Homo sapiens: one gene and its partner. The protein of the gene in region 1 interacts with the protein of each later gene in a pairwise test. Each region holds a gene or a part of one and is shown on either strand. Other genes may lie near its edges.

Region 1 (3,500 bases):
TTTAATGATAATTAGCATATTTTGATTATTTTTCTTGTCTCATATACTTCTGTTTTATTAAAATTGCTGCTACATACATATTTTGCTACATAAAGATTCATAGCTCTTCACTGAAAATCAAAATCTTTAACATATAAAGTACCCATTGTGTGTCATTTAATAATCTTGGTTCTGATGTCCAACTTATGGGATATTAAAATTATTATCTTTGGTTTTCTTTTGAATTTGCTTGGTATAATTTTATGCTGTCTTTTATTTTTAATCTGTCTGAAACACTTTTAGGTTTGTCTCCTGTATATAACAGAGCTGAATTTTCTCCAATTAAAAGCTGTTTTTCTTTCATTAGGAGTTTACATTTATTGATGTGAGTGATACTTATAGACTTGGTTTTATCATATTATTTCATATTTTGTTATATATGTATGTGTATATTTATTTTCTATTAAAAATATATGGTGGTATTTAGGAAGGTTCAAAATTTGTTTCTAGTGGTGACCTATATACATTTAAATTTATATAATATCATTATTCCTCTTTATCTTTAGACAGTTTAAATTGGTTCCTTGTTATAAACAACAATAAACTTATCTTGTATTCTTACCCCTCCTTCACCCCTTCTATCTTCCCTACCAGTAAATTTGTATCATTTGTATTATCTTAGTGTTTATTTTGTATTTAACATTAATGTGAAATATTCATATGTGTCTATGGTTGCTTTCATTCTCAACTTTGCAAATGATCAGGCAATAAGGGAATTTATTTTACCCTCTCTTCCCTGTCTCTATTTTTTCTTAGTTATACTATTTCAGTGCTGTCTGAGCATATAACATTTATATTTCCTTCAGTCACACTTAAAATCACATTTGTTTTTTCTTAGATCTGCATGTACAATGTTTGCTACCATTTTTGTTTATTTTGGCTAAAGTTGCCATTGTCATCTCTTGGTTGGCTGTAGTTTGTCCTATGGTGGTTTCCAAAAAAAAGTCCCAAGTGAAAATTATTCTTTGAGTTCTTGCAGGTTCAGATAATATATCTGAGGCATTGATACCTAGAAGATAATGGGGCTTGATATAGTCCTTGGCTCATCCTTTCTTTTCTTGGATGTCTTATAGGTACTGCTGCACTATCTTTTGCTAGTGAATACTACTGATCTGAAATTTCTTCTCATATGGCTTGATCTTTGTTTGACTATCTAAATTATTATTCTTTATCTTTGAAACCTAATACTTTTACTCTTAGTTGTTTTGGTAGAAATCACTTGGTTTAATTTTTTGCTACTATGTGATGTGCAATTTTAATATGTAGATTGACGTATTGTTTTATTTTAGTAACATTTACTTGAAATATATATATTTTTTGAGTCAAGGTCTCACTCCCTTTGCCCAGGCTGGAGTGCAGTGGCACGATCATAGCTCACTGCAGCCTCAACTTCCTGGGCTCAAGCAATCCTCCCACCTCAGCCTCTCAAGTAGCTGGGACTACAGGAGAGCAGCACCATGCCCAGCTGATTTTTGTATTTTTAATAGAGATGGGGTTTTGTCATATTGGCCAGGCTGGTCTTGAACTCCTGGTCTCAAAGAATTCACCTGCCTCAGCGTCCCAAAGTACTGGTATTACAGGAGTAAGCCACCACACCTGGCCTGAAACAAATTTTTAAAAAGCTATTTTGTTCTACTTGGATTCCTTCTTTAGGTTATCCAATTAAGCCTATGTTGATTCTCTTTTGCTTGTTACCTATATCTATTAGTTTTCTCTTATCTTTTCCGTTTGTTTCATTTTTGTTGATTTTCTCATTTTTATCCTCTGTTTTCCTTATTGTGTATGGCTTCCATAAGGGAAAGTGAAAAGAATCAGAACTAAGATGCTGTTGAAACACTAAGGTGTTCCCATTGAAACAACCAGAAACAATATTTTGCACTTAGTCTCTGGGCTAGGTTGGAAAAACTACATTTTAAAGAAATTTTAAAGTAAAGAAATACTTAATTGTAGTTGTAGTTGAGATATATTTTCTTGAAGTTATTATTCAATAAATTCCACAGGCTCTTAGATTGCTGAAGGTGACATTTGCTTTAGTGTTCTATCACATTGTAAGTTTATTCCTTGATGATGCTACAATTTGATATCATTGATGATTATCAATATCCTTGATGATGCTACAATTTGTAATCATTCATATCTTTTGTTTTTTTCTGTTAGCATAAGATAGAGGGCAGGAAGACGAACTGAGGAAAGAGTAGGACATATCAAGAGCCGTAAAAATGGAAGTGGTGAACTGAAAGCTAATGATGTATGGGAATAAGACACCCACCTGGAAGTCAGAGGAAGCTTCAAGCCAAAGATGGGGAGATTGTGGACTCAGTAATCTAGCTGGTACTCTCACCCAGAGACAACCACAGAACACGCTGAAGCCAGCCTTTTATTGTTGTGCTTGAGCTCTGGATGAACTGCATTCCTGATCCCTAGTAGATGCTCAGTAACAGATTAAGGAATGAGGGTCCAAAGGAAAAAACACACGCATCTCATTGCAGTAATGAAATTTTACTGAATGGAGTGCTTAATGGGAAATGATATCCAAGAACATATGATTTCCTTATTTTAATATTGAGTAACAATTCTATTTGCTCAGACCTCTTTAATTTAATTTAGGGTAGGAGGAATTCCATTAAAATCTTTGATCTATCTTATTCAGATTTTTCTTAATTGGCTCAACCACTAGTCGTTGTGAAGTCCAAGATAGAGGAGTTGGCTGGAGTCATCCTCTCCCACAATGTGAAAGTAAGTAAAGACTCTTCTGACTTGACTATCAATTTAAACTCTGTTAGGTAATAAAGTCCCTGTGCATCTTTACAGGTATGTGTACCTTCCATTAGAATTTGCATGAATTTTAGATTTATCATGATGCCTTCGCTGAGTATTTCTTTCTCTTCACTCACTTACCTCAGTTGTCAAGTGTAAGCCTCCTCCAGACATCAGGAATGGAAGGCACAGCGGTGAAGAAAATTTCTACGCATACGGCTTTTCTGTCACCTACAGCTGTGACCCCCGCTTCTCACTCTTGGGCCATGCCTCCATTTCTTGCACTGTGGAGAATGAAACAATAGGTGTTTGGAGACCAAGCCCTCCTACCTGTGAAAGTAAGTCATAATGATGAATTCTGCATCAAAATGTTTGCTCTCTTTTGTTTAAAAGAGAAAGAAAGGTAAATTTATTGGGGGGCAAATGGAAAATTCAAAGATAAACTAACTATCGCTCTGATGCAATCATTTATTTGGCCACCTGATACTTATTGCATGTTTGTTTAGAATATAAAAGCCATAAAAATGGGAGTGGTGAACTGGGAGCTAACAGTATATGGGAACAAACAGCAACAACATCTCACTGGTTTGGTGAAGTAAAAGTTTATTCTCATTTACACTGAGTTTGTTCCATGTCCAGGAGACTCTCCAGGGCAGCCGTAGTCTGTGTTAGCTTAGCAACTAGCTCAGCAAGCCAGGTTGCTT
Region 2 (3,500 bases), on another chromosome or scaffold:
GTATAGAGTACCTACCCTTGGAAAGCTCTAAAAAGGATCATTTCTAGTTATCTCAGGTCAAGATTCAGCCCTAGTAACAACATTAATAAATTATTATTATTGTTTTAGAGATGGAGTCTCTGTCTGTCGCCCAGCTGGAGTGCAGTGGTGCAATCATGGCTCACTGCAGCCTCAATCTCCTGGGCTCAAGCGATCCTCCCACATCAACCCCCTGAGTAGATAGGACTACAGGTGCATGCCACCAGGCCTGGCTATTTGTTTTTTCTTTTTTGTAGCAATGGAGTCTTGCTGTGTTGCCCAGGCTGCTCTCAAACTCCTGGCCTTGTGTGATTCTCCTGCCTTGACCTCCCAAAGTGCTGAGATTACAGATGTGAGCCACCACACCCAGACAGTAAATTATATTTTAATTTAAAATATATTAATAATGACACTTTTGATAACAATAACAACAATATTAAATTGCAGATATAGCCTCTAGGAAGAATTACCCTGGTAGAGATTTGACTTGTTGATTTCAAAAGTCAAGAAACAAGAGAGCAGAGTTCTCCATCCAGGGAGCAAGGCCCCCAAAGGACCCAACATCCCTTCCCTATTAGACAGAGTCCATCAAAAAAGGAAAACTGACTCTCAATGTTTAACGCAGAGGGAATTTAATACGGGGAATTGGTTATACAAGTGATGGAATTGTTGAGAAGCTAGTAAAGAGTTGGTGAGGCCACCCAGAGATTATCCAGAGACAGGAGGCTGTATCCACCCCAGGACTAGAGGAACAAAGAGTGGAGGTGGAATTATGGAAGTCACCATGAGGAGACATAGTCACAGCCAGAGCCTCTGCCGTGGTAAAGAAAGAGGAAATAGTACTCTGGCTTCATCCTTCCTCCCCGCCATCATTCTCCTGACAGTACCTCCCATTGGTTGACCTGGGTGGAAATCAAAGTGCAAAGAAGCTTGGGAAATGTAGTCTTCCAAGGTCAAAATAGACAAATAGACAAACACCAGTATACCTTTCTCCCCACAATAGCCCAGACTCACATAGTGAGAGATACATGCATTAAACAAATACACCTGCAGACAGCTACAAAGTATCTTTGTAGTAAACGCTGAGAAGAAAGATAATGGGGTGTTACAAGAAAAAGTGGCAAGGGGCGTAAGGTAGATTGGGGGTAAGGGCCAGCAAGAAAGCCCTCTCTCGGGAAGTAATATTTAAGTTGAGACCTGGAGGAATTACCCAGGTGGTGAGTGGGGAGAAAAGCATGTGGGGAAAAGGGAAAAGCATGTGGGGAAAAGGAAACAGCATTTGCAAAGGCTCTGAACCTTACCACACTGAGCCGGAAGACAGGCTCCTTGCTGGAGCTGGGCAGGAGCACAAAGGCATCTATCTCCATATAGGGGTCCACAGACAGATTCCCAGGGCTGAAGTTCAGGAGCGGAGCAGAGGGCACTGATCCCTGGAGTTCCAGGTTCATGTTGGGGTAGAGCCTGGCTAACTGGGAGCAGAATTAGGAGATTACATCAAGAGAAGAAAATATACAAGTCTGCCAGGAGAGGCCTGAGGGAGTCAGATAAAGCTGGAAGTTGCTTTCGATTGATTTTATTTCCAACAAAATTCTCTGTGCCTTTTTCTCCTAGTGGCAAAACTGGCCATCTCTCCATGTCAGACACAGAGTCTGCACCATCTATTTCACGGCTGTGTTGTATTTCGTTATGTATGGGTCCTGCGATGGATTAAACTCTATTGGGCATCAAGTTGTCTCCAGGGTTTTGCCATTATAATGACCACCTCCTGTGAGCACCCTTGGCTATTCTTTTCAGGAAAACATTCCTAGAGGTGGAGTTGCTGGGTTGAAGGACAGCAATGCTTTCTTTTTTTGTTTTGTTTTTTGAGATGGAGTTTTGCTCTTGTCACCCAGGCTGGAGTGCAATGGTGCCATCTCAGCTCACTGCAACCTCTGCCTCTGGGGTTCAAGCGATTCTCCTTCTGCAGCCTCCCAAGTAGCTGGGATTACAGGTGTGCACCACCACACCCGGCTAATTTTGTATTTTTAGTAGAGATGGGGTTTCACCATGTTGGCCAGGCTGGTCTTGAACTCCTGACCTCAGGTGATCTGCCCGCCTCAGCCTCCCAAAGTGCTGGGATTACGGGTGTGAGCCACCGCACCTGGCCAGCAATGCTTTTAAAACTTTCGGCAGGTATTGCCAAATTGTCCTCCAGAAAAGTTGGGCCCATTTTTTCTCCCTCCCTACCTCTCCCAAGGTTTCTCCATCCCCTCATCACATTCTGCTAATTGGGCATGCTGAGGTCAGATGCCAGTGTTTTCGAAATATGACACAGCTGGATCCCACCATTTCTTTTTTAAAAAAAATATTTAATTTTCTCGTATTACTCTTTTAATATGATATTCCACAGAACATTTCTTTCTTTCTTTCTTTCTTTTTTAACTTTTCTTTCTAAAATAGAGACAGGGTTTTGCTATGTTGTCCAGGTTGGTCTTGAACTCCTGGCCTCAAGCTACCCCCCCACTTTGGCCTCCCAGAGTGCTAGGATTATAGGTGTGAGCCACCACGACCAGCCCTAGATTCCACCATTTCAAAAGTGCTCTTAATTTTCTGTGTACTAGAGATAGGTACAGAGTTTAATTTGGGGCAAGACTCTTCCTTTTTAGGAGGCTATTCGTGGAAAAACAGCACTCCCATGAACCTTTTGGTTATGTATATGTAAAACCTACATCCTCTTCTAGAAGGGAGACATTTGGAAGGCTGAGGGGGTAAAATGCTTCACTAAGAAGGTAGGCAGAGTTGCTTTTCCAAGCATTTCAGATAAGAGATAGTGAACCTGTATATACATAGAATATCATCAGAAAGATATGTAAAATCTGGTAATATTGGCAAACTTGAGATGGGAACTGGGTGGTTAGGGAATAGGAGTGGATGTGAGACTTTCCACTCTATAACCTTCTAGATCTTTTGAATGTTGAACCTTGAGAATTTATTTCCCATTCAAAAACTAACATTTTTAATAATTTTTTTTGAGACAGGGTCTCACTCTGTTGCCCAGGCTGGAGTGCAGTGGTGCAATCACAGCTCACTGCAGCCTCAACCTCGCAGCCTCAGGTGATCTTCCCACCTCAGCCTCCCCAGTGGCTGGGACTACAGCTATGTGCCGCTACGCTTGGCTAATTTTTGTATTTTTTGTAGAGATGGGGTTTCGTCATGTTGCCCAGGCTGGTCTTGAACTCCTGGACTCAAGCAATCCACCCACCTTGGCCACCCACAATGCTGGGATTACAGGCATGAGCCACCATGCCTGGCCAAAAAATAATTTTTTAAAGAACCAAGAACATGCCTGGCACCTAGGAAGCCCCCTGTAATTGTTAGCTGCTGTTCATTAGGGTACATTTTATGGACTATGCCAGCATTCCTTGGGATTCTTAGATAACACCAATAAAAGATTGGACAAGCTGTGGTCCCACAAGATATGGGGCGTGGCCTCTGTTATTTAG

The links.
Region 2: the proteins of C4BPA (region 1) and LBP interact in a two-hybrid assay, tested with the Homo sapiens proteins (one large-scale study listed by BioGRID and IntAct).

What each region holds. Positions count from the first base shown.
Region 1 is NC_000001.11:207,121,233-207,124,732, forward strand, and holds part of C4BPA (C4b-binding protein alpha chain precursor), read left to right. Parts: intron 1-2,689; coding exon 2,690-2,775; intron 2,776-2,942; coding exon 2,943-3,134; intron 3,135-3,500. UniProt on the Homo sapiens protein: Controls the classical pathway of complement activation. It binds as a cofactor to C3b/C4b inactivator (C3bINA), which then hydrolyzes the complement fragment C4b.
Region 2 is NC_000020.11:38,366,982-38,370,481, reverse strand, and holds part of LBP (lipopolysaccharide-binding protein precursor), read right to left. Parts: intron 1,488-3,500; coding exon 1,320-1,487; intron 1-1,319. UniProt on the Homo sapiens protein: Plays a role in the innate immune response. Binds to the lipid A moiety of bacterial lipopolysaccharides (LPS), a glycolipid present in the outer membrane of all Gram-negative bacteria.